Regions from separate parts of the Homo sapiens genome. Here regions 1 and 3 are each linked to region 2. A link means that fine-mapping ties the variant in region 2 to the expression of a gene that starts in the linked region. Tissue or cell type: whole blood. Region 2 holds a variant in brackets; each other region holds the start of a gene. All regions are shown on one strand. Distances are between the middles of the regions.

Evidence for each region. PIP is the estimated chance that this variant, and not a neighbour inherited with it, causes the effect.
Region 1: it holds the start of ENPP5, and the variant in region 2 is fine-mapped to the expression of ENPP5 in whole blood (INTERVAL, PIP above 0.99).
Region 3: it holds the start of CLIC5, and the variant in region 2 is fine-mapped to the expression of CLIC5 in whole blood (INTERVAL, PIP 0.92).

The regions. Positions count from the first base shown.
Region 1 is chr6:46,167,739-46,175,907 of GRCh38, forward strand. ENPP5 (ectonucleotide pyrophosphatase/phosphodiesterase family member 5) reads right to left here and starts at 3,242. Exons shown (of 5, transcript NM_001290072.2): 1 at 3,070-3,242; 2 at 2,315-2,376; 3 at 1-559. The coding sequence starts at 524. RefSeq lists a silencer at 3,414-3,473.
Region 2 is chr6:46,394,234-46,402,402 of GRCh38, forward strand. The region is part of intron 2 of RCAN2 (regulator of calcineurin 2); the gene reads right to left. Among named protein-coding and RNA genes, the nearest start is that of RCAN2, 93 kb to the right of the region's middle. The variant A/AACAC (reference allele first, on the strand shown) is at 3,139.
Region 3 is chr6:46,011,744-46,019,912 of GRCh38, forward strand. CLIC5 (chloride intracellular channel 5) reads right to left here and starts at 4,117. Exons shown (of 6, transcript NM_016929.5): 1 at 3,737-4,117. The coding sequence starts at 3,799. It also overlaps the pseudogene RNU6-754P. RefSeq lists enhancers at 3,230-4,074, 4,075-4,919 and a silencer at 3,768-3,817.

The sequences.
Region 1 (8,169 bases), 230 kb before region 2:
GTAAACCATTCAATAATTTTGGCAACTCTATCTTCAAATGAAACTGACTCATTGTAAGGCATGTAATGAGTAGGAAAGCGCTTATGTATTTTTACATCTGTTCCGGGCCACATGGCTGCACCACTAGTATGTCCTGCCCTCTGGTTTGTGATCCATATTGGTGTCGCTTCTTCCCAAAACTTGGAATCATAAATATTCATGTGATCCAAGGAGAAAGATTTGTTCCGAATAGGATCAAACATATCATTTGCAACAATCCCATGATTCTCTGCAAAGAGGCCAGTTACCAAAGTATAATGGTTAGGGTAGGTTTTTGTAATAAAAACATTAGTAACTTGCTTCACGTGAACACCATATTTCATAATATAATGAAAATGGGGCGTTGGAACTTTATATAAGTAATCCCAACGGAATCCATCAAAAGAAACTAGTAGAACCTTTTGCTGGTCTGGTTGGAGAGAAAAGGTGGTTGAAAGACTCAGTGCAGCAAGTATGAAGGACACCAAGAGAAATTTCGAAGTCATTTTCAAAGTACTTGATCAGTTCAGTGTAAGATAATCTGTAGAATAAACATATAGAAATTAAAGGCAATAATTTTGTTTTGTATACTTTACCCCAAACTCAGAGTAACAGTGCTTAGCAATCCTAGTTATATTCATAAATCACAGCCTGGAAGAATTATGTCACAGAACTCCGTATTAGATAAGAGACCTGGGGCTAAATGAATAATAAAGCTAATAAGTTTAGCTGCATTTAAACAACTTTTTCACTTCTGAGAATTTATCTAAATATCCCTCAAAGGAATTATTTAAGTGAGCTCTTCAACAGCATTTTAAAATATGACATCATTTACATAAAACTTTTAGAAACATTTTCAGGTTGATCCAGACTTTTGACTTCTGGTCAGAAACTTTTTTATAGTCAAATACCTGTGAACATCCTTAACATTATGGCTAGAGCAACTATGGCAACCTAGCAACAATGAAGTATCATTAGCAAATCGAATAATGGTGCATATACATATATATTATATATATATGTATATGCACACTTCTATTTTCAACCCCTATGTTTGGTTAATCACAGACAAAAGATGTATTACTAAAGAGAGAGGAAAATAGATGAATTTGGTTTCTTGAAGTGAAATAACATTTGTGACATCCAGATATATTTATTGAAAAGTAATCTGCATTCATTTATTAATAATCAAATCACAGCATTCGTTGAACTAAATAATTAGATTCTAAACTAAATATTAACAGAAATATAATTCTGAAATTTGTTGTTGACTTTCCTAATGTTAAAATTTGTCAAAATTTAATCTTATCATTGATAGGTGTAGTAAAAGCACTTCCCTGGTTTAAAGCTCTGTGAATCAAGGTTGCTGGTCTTTTCCCCTAATCTGTGTATATTTCTAAAATACTTTCATTCTATTGAAGAAAGCTAATAAGACGCTGTATGGATAAACAATAGATATGTAAATTTTGTCAGTTTTCATCAGGCGTGCACATCCAGCAGGGATCTTTTGTTCTCTCATTTTTCTACCCATTCCTGCATGAAGGTATTTATAAACCCACCAAAACTTAGATCAAACCACACTTGTACAAATAAATCTCTTGAAACTGCCTTTTGATATCTTCCTAAGCTGAAGACTTCTTTTTTTTTTTTTTTTGAGAGGGAGTCTCACTCTGTTGCCCAAGCTGGTGTGCGGTGGCACGATCTCAGCTTACTGCAACTTCCGCCTTCCGTGTTCAAGCAATTCTCCTGCCTCAGTCTCCCAAGTAGCTGGGACTACAGGCGCCCGCCACCACACCCAGCTAATTTTTGTATTTTCAGTAGAGACAGGGTTTCGCCATGTTGGCCAGCCTGGTCTCAAAACTGCTGACCTCAGGTGATTCACCCTTCTCGGCTCCCCAAAGTGCTGGGATTACAGGCATGAGCCACCGCAGCCGGCCTGAAGACATTTTTAAACTTCAAAAATATATCCTGTTTCACCTTGCTGTATTATAGGTACAGGTAAATAAAAACTACTTGGCATGCTTGCTTTGCTTTCAGAAATACAAGGTATATGTACATTGTGGGTATTCGCTGAGGGCAATAAATTCTGTTTTGCTGGTTTTAAACTGTGTTTTCACCATACCTAGACATTTCTTAAACTGAAATTGTTTTAGGTATTGGTCTCAAGATGATAGCTCAAATGTCATATTTAAAAACGATTTCTTGGATGGCAATACTCTCTCTGATTCTGGAAGGAACATTAAACACAGTTGCAGCAAGGAATAGCAAATAGGTTACTGCAAATATATTTACTCACCTATCTGGCTATGGATGGTAGTTGCTCTCTCTGTCCTTTCTCCCCCTAATTTTCTCTCCCACCTTTTTAAAACAAGGAAGGCTAGTATCAACCAAATGTAATTTAAGGCTAAAAGCAGAGGAAATAAACTACATGGAACACCTCATTTTCATCTATCTTAGCAAATTAATTCGGCACATGTGTAAGCAGGAGAAAACTGCTTTCTTGGGACCAACAAAAGTAAGCAAAGATTAAGTGTTGTCTAAAGCTTAGGAATGTTTGGCAAGAAGACTCAACATCACATCCATGACACAGAGCAATAAACAGAGGTGGGGGGTGGGGAATGAAAACAATCAGAATTTTTTTTTTTTTCGTGCACAAAATGCTGCACAAAACAGTGGAATCCCTGGATCTGGCTCCACATTTCATTGAGTACTTTCCAGTTCTTTCTCCCCTCCAACCCTTCCTCCACAAACAGACTTGGAGAGCAGGAAGGACGGGGCACCGATTAAACGGAAGAGGGAAAGTGCAGAAGGAGTAGGTTTGTGTAGCTCGGGTAGACGTCAAGGGCGGGGGTGTCCATCTTCTCCACCAGGATTCCATCCTAGCCACCCAGAATGGTCGCGGCGTAGGTTATGTTCCCAATTCCCAGTCATCCCGCCCACCGAGGCCTGGGCTTCTTAGATGTGCAGTGGCAAGGAGGGGACGTTGCTTTAGGGACCCAGAGGAGCAGTGTGGGTTCCCGGGAGGGAAGCCACCCACGCCCCTGGACTCACCCTCGCAGCGATCCGTTCAGTCCGTATTAGTTTGGAGCAACGGGAGGGAGGGTCTGGAGGAGACTCCCTCGGGCGCGCCGCGGGTAACGGCGGGAGGGTGACTGGAGGAACGCCCCCGGAACGCGCAGGAGCTCACCTGCGCTCAACTCTGGAGCGGAGCACCTGACCGCGCCGCTTCCCCGCCCCGCCTCCTGGCTTCTATTGGCTGCTGCAGAGATAGTCACTTCTGCCTGGGTTGCCCCCGAAAGCCAGGCTCCCAGGAGTAGCTGCACGGCCTGTCAATCAGCGGGGGCAGGGGCGGGCGCTGCCTGGGTTTGGAGGGTGGAGGGGGAGGGGACTCCCGGGGGCAGGGACCCATCTGGTAGGGCGAAGGCGTGGGATGGCCAATTGCTTGGTCACACACAAAACCTTCCGGCAACGTGCCTTTTCCAGGGGACCAGCTGTGCTGGAGTCAGTGATGCTGAGAGATTATTGCGTGTTACCCCAATGGTGGGTGTACTCTAACAGTCACTGTTTTTTGTTTAAAAGCGACTTGTATTCTCTGATTTCTTATCCCAGGCTTTTTTCCTTCCCCCGCCCCCCGCCCCCTGCCTTGTCACGAATTGGCGATGGGGCACACCATGGGCTTTGCTCTGAGGAACACCTGCACACCCGAGGATGCCAATGGGACGATGAAGTTTCATTCTTTTTATTAGTGGGTGTTATCTGCTTTACCTCAGAAAGAATTTATTAACCTAGTCAACTCTGCAGCCCCAACGTTTGCAGTCCAGGTTTTTGCAATTGAGGTCCCTGAGGTATATTTGTGGTGTACCTAGCATGGCACCTGAAATTGTGCGAATTAAACCAAGACAGGTTCAGAATTAGGTTAATTTGCACAGGAGAGAGGCTGAACAGCCACCCTCTCTGGTGGTGGCATCCGAGCTCCAGACTCTGTTTCTACCTTTGTTTGCAAAGTAAACATTAAAACTACAAACATCAGGCCTGATTACTCTTTCAGAAAGCCTTCAGTGCTTCTTGTGTGTTAGTGCCCCTATTTTGTCTTTTTCCGTACTGTAGTGGATTATTTTCTCAGTTTTTTTGGGATAATCAATGGCATTTTTAGGCCTGAGGGAGTGTAGGCAGGTACTTAGTTTGCCAGTATGATCCCAACTGTCTTTACCATAAATTATAGCAGTGATATCAAACTACCCTGAAAGAATTTGTCCATCTACACAATCCCAGCTAGAATTCTGACCTAATTAGAATTCTAGTTCTATCTGCAGTAGGCAATAATATCAGGTTGATTGTTACAATGTAAGTTTAACATCTAATTAGCTGGTAAAACTGGGAGCATATCTGCAATGGTGGTTTTGGCTCCTGCCCGGAGCTCGGATCCCTTGTCTGGTGTGCTGGAGCTTTAAAGTGAATAGAGATATCTGTTGATATTTAATTAAGCCATGCAAACATTTTGGTCATAGCTTTTTCTCTGTCTGCTTCTAATAGAGGGACAATCTCAACCCCAAACATTGTTACCTCCTAACTGGGTCATCCCATCCCGAAGGGCATCTGGGCACTCTTCCATGGCCTTTTATTCGTGGTAACTTGAGTTTATGGTTTTCAACACGTGGGATGGGGATTAAGAGGGAGGCTGGTTTCTATGTTTAGTGAGACCCAAACACAATGAAGTTGAACAAGTTGTTCCAATTCCCCAAAGCCCTGTCCTTTGAAATTGCCCAAACTTGGAACAGAGTGGTCCAATCTTGTAAGTCCTTGTCCCCCAGAATAGGTCAACTCTGTGCTCTCCCAAAACACTCAAAGGACAATGTACGCTTATCAGAGAGCAGGAGTGGTGAAAATGGGCCTGACTTTTGTTCGGATCACTGAACATTGTTGGACTCTGTTTGGATGACAACCTGCTTTGCTCTGCAAATTTTATGGAAGTTATGATTATATTCACCAGCTATTCCTGTGAAATAGGCATGGTACAGCTGGTAACCACAGTGCACAACACAGAAAAGTGCTCATAAGACTGCCAGATTCCTCCCAGAAGTCCATATAATGATATCTAATGTTCACCTGATAGGCTTGCTATTACCTTATGTTGTTCATGGGGAGAAAGTCTGGTTTACATAGTATAGAGGAATGAATGTAAAACATGAGATTCCTGCTCCCACATCTGCACCTGCCCTCCTGTCTTATTGTTGCCTCAGTATCTGTCTATTTGCAATAGGTTTTCAGAAAGTTTTAGCAGCAGAAACCACAACCTGCTATTGACTGTAACTATTCTTTTATTCTCTGTTATTAAATTAGTGGAATTCTAATTGAATAATAGTGTAACAGAATAACCAACTTCTTTCTTTCAAAGGTTTTGGGGTCAGGTGGGGAGGGAGATCCCTCTGCCTCCCCAAGGAAGTCTAATACAGGTTGAGAGAGGGACAATTTTCTTCGTCAGGGGCTGGAAGAGCTTTGTGCTAAAACTGAAAAGGGATCTGTTCTTTAAGAAACAACCAGAACTGGCTCTACCACAGAAGTCTTGTTTTTCAGAACTAGACTTCATGATAGGAAAAATAAACACATAATTTTACAATTAAAAAATTTTAAAGGTGCATTCCAGTACATTATACCACAAATGACTAAACTAAAAGAAAGTTCATCTTTTAATCCTTTGTAGAACATTCTGCAAAATGTGGGTCTCACATATTCAATGGCCATAGATAGGAACCACTGGGATTCTGCTTCTGCACTGCTCTTAATTCATGATAAACAGTGGTCTTCACTAATCTTGACTCATTAGCAGAAGTTCAGTCCAATGAGTGAAATGTTGAATTATAGAATAGTCAAAAACTTAGCCCAAGAATTTTTATGCATATTAATAAATTAGGCTTCTAGTGATATGCTTGAACTAATTAGAATGAATTTTGTAGAAGCAATTATTATGCTTTTATCCTCAGAAAGCTTTATATAAGTCAAATATAAACCTATTTGTATTGTTGTATTCTGTAAATTGTATTCATAGTGTTTTAGTTCTAGGACTGCCTTAACAAATTATCACAAACTGGGTGACTTACGACAAACAGAAATGTATTCTCACATAGTTCTGGAGGTCAGAAGTCTGAAATCAAGATGTATTCAGGGCCATGCTCTCTCCGAGACTCTGAGAAGAATCCTTGCTTGGCCCTAACAGCTGCTGGGGATTCTGGTATTCCTTGGCTTGCTGCAGCCTAGCTCCAATCTCTGCCTCTCCTGTCACAGGATGCTCTACTCTGTGTGTCCCTGTGTCACGTGGCCTTCTTATAAGAACACCAGTCATTGGGATTAAGGCCCTCTTCAGCCCAGTATGGCTTCATCTAAATTTAATTACATATGCAAAGATCCTACTTCCAAATAAGGTCACATTCTGAGGTTCCGGGTGAATGTGTATTTCGGAAGGACACTTATTCAACCCAGTATATATAGCTAGCAGAAAGTTTAATTTTATGGCCCAGCCTAGATCAAAAGTTGATGGATTACTAATAAAATGGCTCAAATCAAGGTAACTGACAACATCTGATACTGACAAGGATTCAGAGCTATAATATATTGCTGGACTATCATACACTGCTGGTGGGAATGGACTTCCACTATGGAAGTCAGTTTTGAAGTTTCTTATAAAGTTAAATATACACGTGACATACAACCCAGGAATCTCACTCCTGAGTATTTATCTAAGAGAAATGAAGACAGACGTCCACTGAAAAACCGGTCAACAACTTTTTACAGCAGCTTTATTCATAATCATGTAAAGCTAGAAACCATCCAAATGTCCCTCAACTAGTGAATAAACAAATTGTAGTGTGTCCGTAAATGCAGTACTGTTTGGCAGTAAGAAGGAATACAGAACTCATGCATGCAACAACATGGATGAATCTCAAAAGCGTTTTTCTAGGTGAACGAAGCCAGACACAAATGGCCATACACTGTGTGATTCTGTTTATATGATATTCTAGAAAGGGCAACAATGGAAATAGAAACCAAATCAGCATTTGCCAAGGACTAGGGGTGAGGGGAGGGGATTGGCTAGAAAGGGGCACAAAGAATTTTTTTATGTGATAGAATTTTGATTGCTTTTGTAGTCACATCACTAAGTTTGTCAATATTCAGAGAACTATGTGCCTAAAAATGTTTAATTTTACTGTGTGGAAATTATACCTCAGTAAACAGCAGCAACAATAAATAAACCCTACCCTGCGATAATACCTCACACCTCACCAAAGTTCACAAATTGGTGCTGGTGGTGTTTGACTCTCAGTGGCCTTTCCTGTGTGTACGGGTGTATACCAGTTCTTCCTGCAGGGTGTGAGTGCTTGCAAGTGCAGGAGCTCCACGGGGCCTGCTCTGCTGGGTGTCATTCCTTTTCCCTCATGAATGAAGTCAGGAAACTATGAAGTAAAACCAAAACAAGGCTAAACAATTATTTTCTTTTTCTTTTCTTTCTTTCTTTCTTTTTCTTTTTCTTTTCTTTTTTTTTTTTTTTGGGATAGAGTCTTGCTCTGTCGCCCAGGCTGGAGTGCCGTGGTGTGATCTTGGCTCACTGCAACCTCTGCCTCCCAGATTCAAGCAATTCTCCTGCCTCAACCTCCCGAGTAGCTGGGATTACGGACACGCGCCACCACACCAGGCTAAATTTTTATATTTTGCGAATCACAAAGTCAGGAGTTCGAGACCAGCCTGGCCAACATGGTAAAACCCCGTCTCTACTACAAATATTTTCTAGGCCATAACTGAATGTCATTTGTTGAATAACTAACTCAGTGCAGGATGCAGTCATATAGCAGGAGAGATAGTCATCTTTTGGTGTTGGTTTGAGGCCTATTTTGTAAGACATATTCTCAGGAGCCAAATACGAAACTGCACATGTGTTTGTGGTATATGGGGTGAAAACATTTTGTTAAAACCACATTCTCAGTTCTTTGTAAAGCACATAACACCCCTTAGATGCCTGAACATACTTAGTTTAACATCACTATTTAAAAACTTATTGGCTCCTTATGGGTATTGTAATTCTGTAAATTTACTAGCAGTGGGGGAGGACCTAAAAATATTGTCCTCTATCCAGATCAAAAATACATTTTTCCACTCTAG
Region 2 (8,169 bases):
CAAGAACTCAATTCTTCAGTAGCAGTAAATCTGGACACGAAGGTGCTTGAAATACAAAGGTCTTAACTGAAGGACATCAGAGTCCTATGATTTGGCATTTGCACAAAGTAAGATGTGCTGAATAACTCCTGAATTACTTTTCATTACTGCCTATGTTAGTTTCACATTTATGACTTTAAAGCTTAAAATGTGGCTGGGCATGCTAGAGAAATAAAAGCATAGAATGCTGTAATTACTGAACAAAGTGGAATGGATAAAGAATTGGTCCAAAAGGCAGGCCCAGTCTTAACTTATAAGTAGAAATTCTTCCTTGACCGAGATATTGCTATACTTTCAATTCATTCCCTCTATCTCTCTTTGCATTTTAAATTTTCTCTATAAAAAGTAGATTACCTAGGACTTTATAGCCTGTAAGGCCTTTTGCTTTTACCCTCAGTGAGATGGGAGTCACTGGAGCATTTTGAGCAAAGGGGAGGGAGGACCTGCTTTACCTTTTAACAGGATTCCTCTCATTGCATTGATCCCTCTCTCACTGCTGTATGGGAATCAAGGCAAAGAAAGAAGACCAATACACAGGCTATTGAAATAATAATAAAGAGATGACAATAGCTTAGTCCAAACAAGATGGAAGCAGTGGACATAGTGAGATAGGAATCTTATATTTTGAAGGAAGCATTAAATGAATGTATTGATGGAGCAGATGTACATTGTAAGAAAAAAACCCATGAATCCCCTGAAATCACTACAAGATTTTCAGCATTAGCAACTAGAAGGAAGAGTTGCTATTTCCTGAGATGGAGAAGACTTGAGAGAAGTTGCCAGGAGTGGTGATAGGGTGTTGGAGATAGATCATGAATTTATTTGACTTCTGACACGTCAAGTTTGAAATGCCTTGACATCAAGTAGGCATGTCAAGTAGAAGATGAATATCCAAGTCAGGCATTCAGGGTGCAACTCAGGCAAGAGACATGCATTAAGGAAGCTGCAGTGCATCTGTGGTGTTTAAAGGCATGAGACATGATAGGGTAAGAGAGGAGGGAAAGATAAGATGCAAGCTGAGTCCTGGGCACTTTAACTTGAAGTTGGAGAAAGAGGAGAAATCAACAAAGGAGCAATAAGGAGCCACAAAGGGAGGTGGAGTCCTAAGAACCAAATGAAGAAGGTTTCAACAAAGGACGAACAACCCATGTGTCTAAGGCTGGTCTCTTAAATATTCTAAACCAATTCACAAATATAATCAAAGTCTTTTACTCCTTTCAAAATAAAATAACACATCTAATAGTAATTACACATTTCAAATCAAAATCTCAAGGCTAATTTGTCAGATACTCTAATATGTCAGATTGTTTCAGTAATATACCTTTAAAAATAAATAACCACAAATAAAATGAATGATTATGAGATGTACTGCTAAACTTAGCACAAAAGCATTAAGGCTTAACGTTAAGGCTAACAGGGTTGGCTCATGTTATCCCTTCTCTACTCCACAGGTTGTAAGGTCATTTTCGCAATCTAGGAGGAAACATTTACTCTATCAGTGGAGCCACATTACAATATACTTATTTACCTGTCAAATTTAATACCAACATATGAGACCTGGCCACTACGTACCTCAAAGCTGATTCTCTCCAAATTCTAACTGAACAAGCTGATCCCGTTCTGATTGTTGAGTTCTGTGTGCAATGTCATTAGGGTACCCCATGCCTATATCTTCCAGCTGGAGTTTAGTTTCACAACCCTGCACGTCACACATTTCCTAGAACATATTTCAAGCTTTACCTTCAATCAATTTTTATTATAACCTTATTTCAACATGTTATCACCTAATTTAGGTAGACGAAATTCTGCGCCTTTAACCAAGTTGCAGTTAATTTCTTTCATGCCTCAACTGGATTCAACTAATGTCTTTTCTACTTGATTGAATTCTGCATTCTTATTTTTTTGGTCTGAATCTTGGTTACAATTTTAGAATCATTTTTATCGACAAGAGAAGAGCTTAAGGTCCATGAAAGTGATGGGACCAAGCACAGGTTGGATTTCTTTATTCCAGTGCATAACACCTAAAGCTTCTGTCCTAGGGTTTGTTTGAATGGTGCTCAGAACTATGAAGGATCCATAGCCTATTCTTACTTAGCTGCGAGAATACCACACAGAAGAGCTTCAGAGTTGGAGGTGAGGGCTAGAGGAACCATTAAAGAGGGCTGATATGTCTCATTTATTCAAAAGACCCGTATTTGACCCTACCATTCGCTGGCACTGTGCTAGGGTTAAGCAGTGTGTTTTGAGATGCGTTTATGTGTGCTTGATACCTGCTCCTTTTGATCTGGTGTAGGCAGGGTTGAGATTCAGCTGTGCCCACTGGCACGGCTGTACTGGTAATTTGCAGCTGGTGTCTATTCTGATTGGTTAGTACTTGTTTCATAAATGCTGTTACATATTATGAATATCATCCATGATGTTAGAGATACTAAAGTAAACAGAATACATTTCTATCTTTTGAAGTTTTTTTGTTTGTTTTAATGATTTCAAAGAGGCATCTATCCCTTCTTATCTCTATTACAACCATCTTGATATCCAAATAGTAAATAGTAATCTTGGCTGGGTGCGGTGGCTCAGGCCTGTATTCTCAGCACTTTCAGAGGCTGAGGCTGACAGATTACCTGAGGTCGGAGTTCGAGACCAGCCTGACCAATATGGTGAAACCCTGTCTCTACTAAAAATACAAAAATTAGCTGGGTGTGGTGGCATGCTCCTGTAATCCTAGCTACTAGGGAGACTGAGGTGGGAGAATCTCTTGAACCCAGGAGGTGGAGGTTGCAGTGCGCCGAGATCACACCACTGCACTCCAGCCTGGGAAACAAGTGAGAAACTCTATTTCAAAAAAAATAAAAAAGTAACCTAGAACATATGTCTGAAGTTACTGTGTTTCACAATATATGCTCTAGTGTGACTGTTTATGTAACATTCCAAAATGGGCAAAATATAGAGATAGAAATAGATTACTGGTTTCCAGGGGAGTGGTAACTACAAAGGGGGGTACCATAGGGGAGTTCCCACGCAGTGATAAACAGCTCTCTATTGTGTCTGTTGTGATTATAATCATTACACAAATCTCCATATAGGATAAAATTTCACAGA[A/AACAC]ACACACACACACACACACACACACACACACACACCACAGTGACTGTAAAAGTTGGTGGAATCTGAGTAAGGTCTGAAGTCTAGTTAAGAGTATTATTCTAATGTCAATTTCCTGGTTTTAATAATGTACTATAGCTAAGTAAGATGCTACCTTTGGGGGAAGCTGGTGAAGGGTACATGAGACTTTTCTGTACTATTTTTGCAACTTTGTATACATCTATAATTATTTTTTAACCTTTTAAAGAGAAAAATGTTATGCATTGATTTAGTTAAAATAATAATAGACCCTTTACATGTAAAAAAATAAATGCCCTATAATATTAAACACTTTTCATTTTATTAGTCAGCTCTCATCCCAAAGTAGTCTATAATGAATGAATGAGTTCTGATGGTCACCTAAGCCATGCAGCCCCACTCAGCTATGAAGTTATCACCACCACATGTTTATTCATTTTAACATGTTTGATTCATATAATTAACACGTGAAAAAATCTTTTAAATTTTGCATTCTCTTTGGTACAGAAATTCTAATACTAGTAAAATATTCTACAGGTAAATAGACTTATTTAAGTGCGCTAACAATAGGCACACTCAGCATAGTTTCTCATGGCCGAAAACTGGAAACAATCAAAATATTGAGAATAGGTGACTTGTTTACTACATTTTGACAGAAACACAGAATTAGCGAAGTGAAGACAATAAAAATGTTATTTCAGAGGAATACTTCATAATTTGGAAAGCTGCTCTCATGTTTTGCTAAGTGAAAACAAATTTAAATAGGGTATACAAATATATATGTATGCATAGGGAAAGAACAGATATTTAAATGTTAATGGTGATTTTTCTCTGTGTTATGGCAAATAACATTGTTTTTCTTCTTTTGACATCTAAATTTTCTAAAATGTCTACAGTGAATATGTATTATGTTTGTAATAAATGTAAGACGAAAAAGCAATGTATATATTATAACCAAGTTCCTCGTAGACTAGTGTTTCTTCCAAACTCTGGTGAGTGAGCCCGTGGAGGTCCAAAGATAATTTCTTAGTGGCCAATTATTATTATTATTATGAGAATTTTTGATGTAGTGTTTTCATTAAGATGCTAACCTTAACCCAGTAATATAGACATGTTCTGGATCATCTTCACGATCTCAGCAGGTATAACAAAGATGGCCACTGCCTATATTTGCTTTTATTTTTATGGCTGCGAGTTTAACAAGCCCCACTGTCCTAATTCTCACAGACCAATGAGAAAAAATAATACAGAGTCAAATGTAACAACATATTTCTGGCTAGTAAAAACCATAGATCCCTGCACAAATTAAAATTTGCAGAATTTCCACTAGAGAAAGTAGTGAATACCAGACATGCCAAACTCGAAAGAACTTGCCCTCAGCTCTCAGTACCCAGGCCACAATGTGATCAGTGATTTAACTTTAGCAAAGAGCATCTTCAGTCATTCCATATTAATGGGTGCATTATAGTGTTTATTTATAGTTTTTACTGTATTTGATTTGTAAATTTGTTTTGGTCTTTTATAAATATATATATATATACATATATATACATAAAAGCAATAAGAATAGTGAGTATGTGTCTATTTTGTTTTGTGTTATACTTATTTAAGGAGCATACTGTCAAAAATGTTAAATCAACTGGAGTCGACAACAATCTTTTTCCTTTTCAGACTGCACATTCCTCAAGTCTGAGAAACATTCTTCTAGAACCATAGCTGTTCCCTGAGTATTAATAAAGTACCTTCAGAAACTACATAAACTCCTGGGCACTAAAATGTCATTTAATCTCATTGATGCAGCTAGTAACAAAATGGGACCAAAGCAGACATGTCTGATGCCAAGATCGCTGATCTTTCTCCTCCAATCCCTAGTAATTCACAACTATTTCTATTTCCCAGGTCATTAGAAGGATAAAAATATTTTAAATTAATAAAAGCTGCTTTGAATGGCTAATACACTTAATTTTTTGTGAGGTATTTGCATTTTCAAAGGAAGGTGCCAGGAAAACTAATACACCTTGCCTGCAATTCCCCCTGTTACAACCCAAATCTGTTAACAGGGGGAACTGCAGGCAAGGTGTATTTGTTTCTCTGGACTGCCTAACCAATTACCACAAATCTGGTGGTTTACAACAACAAAAATGTATTCTTTCACAGTGCTGGAGGCTGGAAGTCTAAAAACAGGGTGTCAGGAGGGTTGATTCCCTCTGGAGACCCTTTGGGTGCATCTGTTTTATGTCTCACTACTTGCTCCTTCCTGCTGGTGGCTGCCAGCAATCCCTCCACTCCTGGCTTCTAGATGAGTTACTCCAATCTCTGCCTTCATTTTTTTCACACCACCTTCTCTTCTGTGTTTCCCACTTCTCTTTCACCTTGTCTCAGGACACTACACTTGTCATTGGATTTAGGGATCACCTTAATCCAGGATGATCTCATCTTGAGATCATTAACTTAATTATATTTGCAAAGACCCTTTTTCCAAACAAGATCACATTCACAGGTTCTGGATGGACATATCTTCTGTTGGGTTGTCATGATCCATACCACTAAGCTGTAAAGTGAACTTTCCTGCACACAAAATCCCTGAGGTGGCTCAGCACTCATGTGTCTCACAGATTACCTCCTCACATAAGACCATGGAAAACCAGAATCACATCTCCTGCATCTGCAAATTCTTCCAGGCTCTGGATCCCACCTCTGGTTTCCACCTCTAGTGTATCTCTATACTCTGCCTCAAAGTGCAATTCCCCACTGCCTTGCCCATTCAGATGATCACTTCTACTGTGGGGTGAGGGGGCTGCCCAGCTTTCACCAATTTATCTCCCTGACATGATCTTCCACTTTCCTTAGCACTTAGTCAAGCCTTCTGGGTCCAGGCTTCCTAGAAAGCTCATTACCAGGTCCCTCTCACCCTCCTTCAGCCTAGTTCCTCAGACTACCATTTATCTTGGACCAGAGATCCAATACTGGGAACTAAACTGTTCTTAGAAGCGAAGGCAGACCAGCCCTGCCTGGAAATCAATCTCTCTCATTAGTTCCCTGGCTGCTGATGCTTTTTTTCTCTTGTCCCTTCCCCAGGATCTGGCTAGTAAAAACCATAGATCCCTGCACAAATTAAAATTTGCAGAATTTCCACTAGAGAAAGTAGTGAATACCAGACATGCCAAACTCGAAAGAACTTGCCCTCAGCTCTCAGTACGCAGGCCACAATGTGATCAGTGATTTAACTTTAGCAAAGAGCATCTTCAGTCATTCCAGATTTGCGTCTGGATGAGGATCAGCATCTCTCATCCACTGGCCCAGAAATTCCAGGGTATTTTCCCCACCTTGCCATGGTGGGAGAGACCGGGCCCAGAGCTCCAGGGGCCACTGCCCCACAGCAGCAGGGTAAAATGGTGGTGCCATTTGTAGCCCTAACATTTGTAAGAAAAGAATGGCTGGGTCTCTATCTTGGTTGCTATTCCCTATGGAAGGCAAGGTGCTTTTTAAAAGACGCCCTTCACAGACCACCCAAATGAGAAACACCTGGGATAGTTGTTAAGCATGCATATTTCTGAGCCTCATTCCAGGAAAGTCTATTAGAATCTCTGGGAAAGGACACAGGTCTTGGCATTTTTAATAAGTTTCCCAGTGATTCTTATACACATTAAATTCTAAGAACCACCAGCCTAGTATAATCAAGAAGGTACAAAGTACAGCCACGTTCCCAGGAGTTAAATTAGACCCAGATGAGGAGCCCAATGTCCACAGTGGGTTGAACATTCTGGGAAAGTTACTGCTTCTTCTGTTCACTCACAAAACTCTTCCCTGGAGCACAAGTTTGCCAACAGGTTTGGATCAGAACCTCATGGACCCAGAATCATTGTCCCTCCTCTGTCCTTCCAACCTAGGCAGGGACCAATCCACAGAACTGTCTCTTTCTGCCTTGCTTTAGGGACTTTGTTGCTGATCACCCCTGGGCCTTTGTCAGGGCCCACAAGGGTCCCCCTACAGTTTGAACATGGGGGAGACAGTAGAGATTCAGGTGCCTTCCCTTGGATTCTTTGTGCAAATAAATCCATCCATCTTCAGAGCTCTAATTATCAAAGGTATTGAGATGTCCTGAGAGAGAGAGGCACAGCAAAAGATCCCTCATACCTCTTCCCCAGAAGAAAGTGTCCTTGCTTGAATTTATATAATAATGGGGACTGACCATGCTGCCCCTCAATTTCAGTGTACTCAGGTCTGTTTCCAAGTAATCTGCGAACTATACGGGTGGAAGTAGCTAGCGTTAATTTAATGTCTATCCTAACTTTTCCCTGAAGCTTTCTAAATCCTCCACAATTGTCAGCACATCTTTAGTTATGTGGCAAACTAACTCTAAACCATAGATATAGTAATAGTAAAAGCAGGTGCCTTCCTTCTGTTCCCATGAGAGCCCCAGAGAAGTAAGACATCTGAGCTTCTGCCTCCATAATGGGGGGAGACTAACTGGAATTCCCCAGACACATCTGATCAAGCCCCTGCAACAGGACACTTGTGAAAGACAGGGCAGAGGCTCCATCACACAGCTTGTGAGCTCAGCCTAAGCAGGCCTGGATGCAAAGCCCATGTCATGGCAGGTCAGCAGGAAAAACACCATCGAGAGTCTGAGATGCATGTAGAAGTACATAGACAAATACAGAAGACATAAAAAACAGTGCTTGTTATTTGGGAAAATGAGTAATGTTTCCATTAAATATTAAGAATGTGTGTAACTGGAAAGCTGAAGCAGCAAAAGTTTAAGCAACAAAGAGGCCTGAAAGAGCTGGATTCAGTTTACCAACCGGCATGGAGTCACTGGGCACTTATTATGTGCTGTGTAAAAATTTGTGTGTGTGTGTGTTGTATGTCCAGGTAAGTATATACGTGTGTATATATGTGTGTGTTGTGTGTGTACACCGTTGGGGCTCAGAAAATGATACCCCGAAGGGAAGGCCTCTGGAGCAGCCTCAGGAGCCTCCTCTACCCTCCTGCCTTCCAGTTGCTCAGTCCCAT
Region 3 (8,169 bases), 380 kb before region 2:
TTCTGTTTTGCTTTTACTTCCTTGCTCTATTTCTTTCAATAAACCACACTCACTGCCATTACCTCTAGCCTGTTGTCCTCCTCTTAGGATCAAAGTCCAAGCTACATATTATCTCATTTACTCTCAAAATATCCCTGCAAGTGAGGAAGGAGCCAGGCCTTTGTTCCCCAAGGCAAATCAGGGACGTGCAGGTCCAGAAAGGTTCAGTCTGCCATGGGACTCATAATATTCAAGTCAGTGTGTTTACAGCAATTTTCAATTTACAAAGTGTTTTCACCTATGTTCTCCCATGGAATCCTCACAGCAAATCTACAATGACAGTATTTTCATAACCAGAATGACCACACATCCTTATTTGCTCCCAAACTATCCTGGGTTATACCTGTGGTTCCAGCCTAATTATTGATATCATTCCCTTTCACTCTCAAAAGTGTCTAGATTTGGACAATAAATTATATGGTCTCCTTATTTATAACCATGCTCTTGTTTTAAGAGGGCCAGTGAGGCTCCTGAAAGTTAAATAATTTGTTCAGGATCATTTAGCTAATTAGAGGCAGAGGCAAGACTTGAACTCAGGTACTGCATCTCCAAATCCCTGCGCCATCCACAGGTATTATGGGACATTAGAATCAGAGTTGACATGATCTAACATTTCTTATTGTAGAAACTAAAAATGTGGGGAAATAATCTCTTAAAAGTCACTGTCAGAATGTTCCCCGAAAGGGAAAGACTCGGAGTACATAGCAGAAATGGGTTAGTCTCCTTGGAAGCATTCTATGAACACATTAGAATGGATTAATAACATAAATAAATGTCACCATGATGGCACTTGAAAGCCTAACTTGGCAAAATAAGGTATCAGGCCTGACATATAGGTATTTGGAAAAGAGCAAGAAATTCAAAGTCTAAACTGCTAGATTTGAGGACTGGATCTGAATGCTATCTGCCATCTACCTTTGGGCATTTTACCTACTTTCTGTGAGCACATGTATTGTTCAACAGAACAGGAGGAATTATCATTCTTAGTTCCCTGGGCTGTTACAAGAAGAGCAAACTGCAGCTCATCAAGTGCTCTGACAGCGAGTCTCATAAGGTACCTGTGAATCCAGTTTATTTGTTTTCTTTATCTTTCACATAAGTGAATCAAGCCTTATAAAGTTGCTGATGATCAAATGAGATAAGGTATTTGAACATACTTATTATGTCCTAATATGCTGCAATCTTTCCTTCTTCTTATCATTATCATTATCAGCAGTAGTAGTAACAGATAATGACTATCAATTGACGTGGGAGACAATTACAATTACATGTCATTGTGAAACTCATTAGGTGACTGTGATTTAGAGTGGTACACCCAGTGGAAACAAGAGGTTGGGAGGTCCTTCCAAGGGGGTGTTGAAAATGACCAAGTCATGACTATAACTGGGTGGGACCCATCCTTCTTGGAAGTCTTCATAGAAACCAACCCACCCTGCCCTGCAGAAAGAGCTTCAGTTACCTGACACCATCAACAAGAAGGCCTTTCTTTTTATGGGGAATCATGTACCTCAGAGAAACTCCAAACTTTGGAAAAGTGTGATTCTGTCAACAAGGATATTGCTTCCCTCAAATGACACAGTTCAAGTAAGGCCTGGGCAGCATCTTTATTTCACAATATTTCTAGCCTTTACTTGTCCCATTTACTTGTAAATGAGAACTGCTAACCTGAAGCTCAAAAAGATGGGGTTGAGGGAGGAGTCAAAACAACTTTCATACCTGATGTTTTGATCTCCCCATCAATCTGGTTTTTGAGCTAGCCATGAAGGCCTGCCTGGCTCTCATTGATTTCCTTTAGGGAAAAAACAAATGACAACACAGTCATTTTAGAATTATTTGGGGAACGCTGCAAATTGTGCAGTAAGGTTTTTATATAAATGGAGAGACTCTCCAACACTGCCAACAAGAAAATTCCAAAGGTGCAGGTAGAATCGGTCTCCACACCTAGGAGTGGGGCAAAGGGCTCCTTTGGTTCTAAAGAACCTATTTGTGTTTCAAATATCTTTCAGAAACTTGACACCTTGAAACTACCACTCTCAAGGAATCTGAGTAAGTCCTAGAATCGCTTTCTTCAAGGAGAGCAGCAAGACTCATCGCTTTGTTAAAGCTCTCCCTATTCACCCCTAGGGCCCAGGCCTGGATGCTGGGGTTCAGAACACCCCCTTGCTGCCCTAAGGTCCAACACTACCCAGCATCAGACGAGAAATGACCTCCTTTATTACCTGGGTCTGCCAAAGGACCTGGAAATCCAGCCTGGGGTGGGGGTGGGGGGAGTCCCAGAAACCAAAGGAGCACACAGGGGCCACAGTGGGAAGAGAACAGGCTGAAGAAAGCAAGTGTCACTAAATGTCAGGTGTAAGCTTGAAAAATAAACACAAAGAATGTAAAACCCAGCAGAAGAAATTTAACAAACCTTTGTGGTAGGCTGGGACAACGGAGACAGATCACGTACCAAGTGTAAAGTAAGTCACATTTTAAGAGTCAGAAAGTACCAAAGACCACAGATTGTTATCAAGGTTTATGTAGATCTCATACTTTTTGCAAACATCTATTTAATTAGCTTGTAGAGAAGGATCTTTTGGGCAAAATAACATTTTCCCAATTCCAGGGAATATTTATGCCTTTTAAATTCTGCCAGGAGGCCCCTGACAGGCACCAGTGACTCTTCCCTTCTCAGCGATCTGCATATTTCTAGGGAAACTTTGCACTGAGAGAGTTTTCCCCCTTTGTGAAAGGTCTTGGCGCCCAGGCAGTCCCCGACTTCCCCTCCCCCAAGTCCTGGCGACTGTTTCTGCTCAGCCCTGGAGGCTACTCTCCCGCAGCCTCAGGTTTCCCTACTTCTGCAGCGTCGGCACCAAGGGCTGATCAAATGTTTCTTTCTCCTTACACCGGCGGACCGGGAAACGCCGCCGCAGCCTCGCCTCCATCCTTCCTCCTACAGGTTGCAAATAAAGTACAGCAGCTCTGACATTAGGCAGTTTCTGTCCAAGGAGCAAGGTGACTTCATTTAATTTGCACTGTGCTCCTTCATCCCTGTCTGCATCAGGTTGAACGGGAGGCTCTCCCTACTACCAAACGCCTAACATTTCCTTGATACTGCCTTGAAAAATCATGATTATGACAAAAATAATAACGTCGGAGAATGGAGTGCTTGTTTTCTGCTTTGCAAGTCACCAAGCAAGAAAACACTTTTGTCTCCTTGGCTTTTATTTTAGGATCTCTGAGCGAAAGAGAGAAAGAGAATTTTAAGAAATGTCATTTTCGCTTTGCCAAAGATCATTGTGTCAATAACGTTTCTCTCCCATTCCTCCCCCTCCTCCCGTTTTAAAGGAAAGGTTCACGGGTCCAGCCAGGTTTCTGCCGCATCCCGACACCTGGAGACGTCTTTCAGGACCAGCCTGAATCGCGTCCGGGCTGGGCTCTGGACTCGGACTCGCAGCGGTGACAGCGGAGGCGGGGACGGGGGTGGACAAACTGCGGATCAACTCTCCGAGAAGACGGCCACCTGCCGGAACCTGCCTTCCTCCATTCCGCCCAGGAGCCTCGCAGCGGGGCGCTGGCCTGCGGAAAGGCCACGGGGGAGCACAGGGCTCCGCGCCGCCCTCCTGGGAGGGTCCGGAGTCCAGCGCACCCCGAGCCCTGGTGGGTGAGCCCGGCGGGAGGCGCGGCAGGTGCGGCGGGAGACTGGACCCCGACCTACCTTCACAAAGAGCTCGATCTCGGGGTCCCTGTCGTCCCCGTTAGCTGTCGCCGAGTCTGTCATGCCGTTGGCGCCCGGGGCTACCGTCCCGGGCCGGGGAGGCGCCACCTCTGCAGCACCTGGGCCAGCACTCTGCGCTCCTGCCGCTGCCCAGCGGGGCTCCTCTTCAGGGCGGTGTTTAATTTTTCACAAAACCATCTATTCTCCAGCCCGAGCAGCGGGGTCTGAGAGATCAGTGTCCCAGATGCTCACATGAAAAGGAGCGAAGCCGGGAGGAGGCGGGGGGCCACGGGGAAAGCCGGGTTAAGGGAATGACAACAGGTCGTGGGAGCAACAAGTGCCGGGCTGCCCGGAGGTGTCACAGGATCCGCGACTGTCAGCGATCCCGCCGCCGCCAACGCGCCCAAAATAGCCGGCGGCTGCAGGGCGGGGTCAGCCGGGCGGGGACGCGGCGGGGACACCCCGGCAGCTCGGGCCTGGGCCGGGCCACGGCCCCCCGCCCCAAGACCCCGCAGGGCAGGAGGCGGAGACAGAGCTGGTCCTGGCAAAGCCACCAAGGCCAAGAGGATGTCCTGGGGGCGGATAATGAGGCGAAGGCAGAAAGAGTCGAGGAGAAGGGGAAGGGGAAGAGGAAGGGGAAAGGGGAAGGGGAAGAGGAAGGGGAAAGGGGAAGGGGAAGAGGAAGGGGAAAGGGGAAGGGGAAGAGGAAGGGGAAAGGGGAAGGGGAAGAGGAAGGGGAAAGGGGAAGGGGAAGGAAGAGAGGAGATGGCTCTCAAGTCTTCTGTTTCTTTAATAAAGCGTCAGCTCCTCCGAGTTACTCCACTACCAGCCTTACCCACTTGGAAAGCCCTTCCTGTCTTAGTGATGCTCAGAACCCCCACCAAAAGGGGCATTTGCCATCCTTGGGCTAAGCAAAAGGAGAGTAGGGTGCTGGGGACGGGCAGGGCAGGGCAGGGGTGGCTCCTGGGGCAGAGGGGTGAGTCAACCCGGTCAGGTGCGGCTTCCATGCCTTTCAGCCTTCTGGGTTTGTTTATTTTTCTTCTCCCTTCTTTCATTTTCTTTCTATTTCTTCCTTTATTTTCTGATCTTACTTCATTCCCGTTCTCTTCTGGTTGTTTTAGTGAAGTAGGATGCAAACACAGAAAAGATGCACATATCTTAGGTGTATGCCTCAATGAATTTTCACAATCCAACCCACCCATGTAACGAGCGCCAGATGAAGAATAAAATGTTAGCCACAGCCCTAGAAGCTCCTCCTGCTCTCTCCTCTCCACATCTTTTCTCCCGTCTCCACTGTCCCAGGGTAACCATTATTCTGGCTTGTAGCAGCATAGGATCTTTTTGCCTGGAATGTTGGTGTCTGGCTTCTTTCGCTCATTACTATGTTTGTGAGATTCATCCATTGTGCTATGTGTAGTTGTGTATCATCCATTTTCACCGACACACTTACTTATTCATTCTTCTGTCAATGGACATTTGTGCAGGTGACTATCATGACTACTCTGTCACGAACATTCTCTCTATCAAACATCTTTTGGTTGGATTCACAGACACTTTTCTCTTGGATGTATACTTAGGAGTGGACTTGCTGAGTTGTAGTGTATAAGAATGCTCTCCTTGTGTAAACACTGCCATAGGTTTTCTAAAGTGGTTGCACCAACAGACATTCCCACCCTTCAGTTCTTTAAAAAATAATTATTGAATGTTTTGCACCAGAATCTGGTGGAATTCTCTTTGTCTTCTTTGCCTTCTCTTTAATTAATCCTGTTTGTGCTATGTCCTTCCTTACTAAAAACATGTATTTGTTTAATAGCTTTATTAAAAAATTTATCGCTTAATAAAAAAATAAGTAATAATACTTATTATGTGCTAGGCAAAAATGTTGAGCACTTTACATGTGTGAACTTGTATAATATTTACAAATAGTATAATGATCCCAATTTTACAAGTGGGGAAACTGAGACATGAAGTATTTAAGTAACTTATCCCTAGTCATTCAGCTAGGAAATGGTGAAGTCAGGATTTAAACCCAGACAGACTTGAGCCTGTCCTCTCAACTGCTCTACAAACTGCTTTTCTTAGTGCACACTATGGAAGTGCACACTTTGAGGAAACAAAGGCATGGTTTTAACGGTCTTAACAGAGATCAAAATCCCTTTCAGAATAATAGTTACATGAAATGAAAACTAAGGCTGCCACATGAATTGGGAAGATGAAGGAGCTATACAAGCTGTCACGTAAAGATACTATTTACCATGGTTGGGGTGAGGAGAGGAAAAGGCTTCATGGAGCAAAAGGCACTTTAGCTGAACCTTCCTGAAAGGTCAGGCATCTGATAGGCAAAGAAAAGGGAAAGATGTCCTCACTACCCTTTATGGCAGGCTGTGTCCCCACAGACTCTCAGTGCAAATTCCTCCTTCCTGAAGAAAGCAGTCACCAAGCCCAACGTGCAACTCTCTTGGTACATTATAACTTAATCAAGGTGATGTTTAATTGCTTTCCTCCTGCTTGGCTTCAGGCTTACATCACCAAAGCCTTTAGAGAAACAGTCACCTTCACAGCTGTACATTCTGCACCAATGACTACATACTTTAGGGAAGGACCAAGGTTACAGAGGGAGACTGGTGCCTTCGCTGCATGATGCACAGACTCAGAACATCCCTGCACTGAAGTGTAGGCAATATTCTTAATGGCAATGTGGCAGTAGCAAATAAAATTATATGCATAAAATGTCTTCGAGGGTTTTGGTTTTTTGTTTTTTGTTTTAATGAAAAATGTGTTACACGTATTTTCGATCATTTCCTTGGCTATGATCTAAACAATGTGTGGTATGACTTCTCTTTCCTTAATCCCAAACCTATCAGAGTTAACTTTCATTTTATCTTCTCCAAATATCTACTGCTATTGTAAATTTGGACAGATCTCTTTCAATAACATTTTATAGGAAATATCTCCCATTTGGACATCCCTGCAGATAACTTATAGTTTTGATATTATAAAGCTTCATGCTGCAAAAAAAATAATTCTTCTTTGGTCATAAACTATTTCTGTGCATATTTTCCATTTTCAATTTCATATTATGCCTTAGCTCAAGATAAAAGGACTTTACTTTGTACCCTTTAATGTTAAAGAATAATTGGTTAGAGTCAATTCTAGCTTTGTCTGGAGAAAAACACTATATGTCTAATTCCAGCCCATAGTTTCACAAATGTGGTGCAAGTTTTGAATAAATTTTTACCAGGAAAGTACTTTAAAAACACATTTAGTGCTCACTTTGGCAGCACATATTCTAAAATGGAAACCATACAGAGAAGATTGGCATGGCTCCAATGAAAGGGTGACATGCAAATCTGTGTGACATTCATATTTTTGTATGACTGTTGAAAGTGAAAACTATAACATATCTGATAGCATTTTTAATATATTTAGATTCAATAATATGACCACTGCAGCATAAAGGGTAAAGGGCAAGGAATTTATACAGTTGTAAGGTTTATATACTTTACTTGATATAGTAAACTCTAAGTAGCCTGAGAAAAACTAGGTATGTGTATTGTAATCCCTAAAGAAACAGCTATTTGAGTTATAAAACAAAAGTATAGTAAAAAAAAAAAAGCCAACAGATAAGCTAAAATGGAATGACAAGAAATATTCAAATAATCTAAAAGGCAGAAAAGAGGAAGAGAATAGAAAACTGATAATAAAATGGTACACCTAAATATAACCATATTAATACTTAAGCTAAATATAAATGGTCTAAGCACATAAATTAAAAGCTGAAGATTGTTGGATTGCATAAAAAAGCAACAAGAAGACCCAACTATATGCTGTTACAGAATTCACTTCAAACACAATGTTATTGATAAATTAAAAGTAAGAGGATGGAAAAGCCCCTGCCATGCAAACACTAATCAAAAGAAAGCTGGGCCGGGCGCGGTGGCTCACGCCTGTAATCCCAGCACTTTGGGAGGCCGAGGCGGATGGATCATGAGGTCAGGAGATCGAGACCATCCTGGCTAACAAGGTGAAACCCCGTCTCTACTAAAAATACAAAAAATTAGCCGGGCGCGGTGGCGGGCGCCTGTAGTCCCAGCTACTGGGGAGGCTGAGGCAGGAGAATGGCGTGAACCCGGGAAGCGGAGCTTGCAGTGAGCCGAGATTGCGCCACTGCAGTCCGCAGTCCGGCCTGGGCGACAGAGCGAGACTCCGTCTCAAAAAAAAAAAAAAAAAAAAGAAAGCTAACCTCTAAATTAATATAATTATTAATAATATATAAACATATATTAATGTAAGTCTATTAGACAAAATAGACTTCAGAAAAAGGAAATTATCAGGAATAGAGACATTACATAATAATAATAATAATAACAGAGCCAGCTCACCAAGAAGATAGAACAACCTTAAATGCATATATACTTAATAACAGAGCTTCA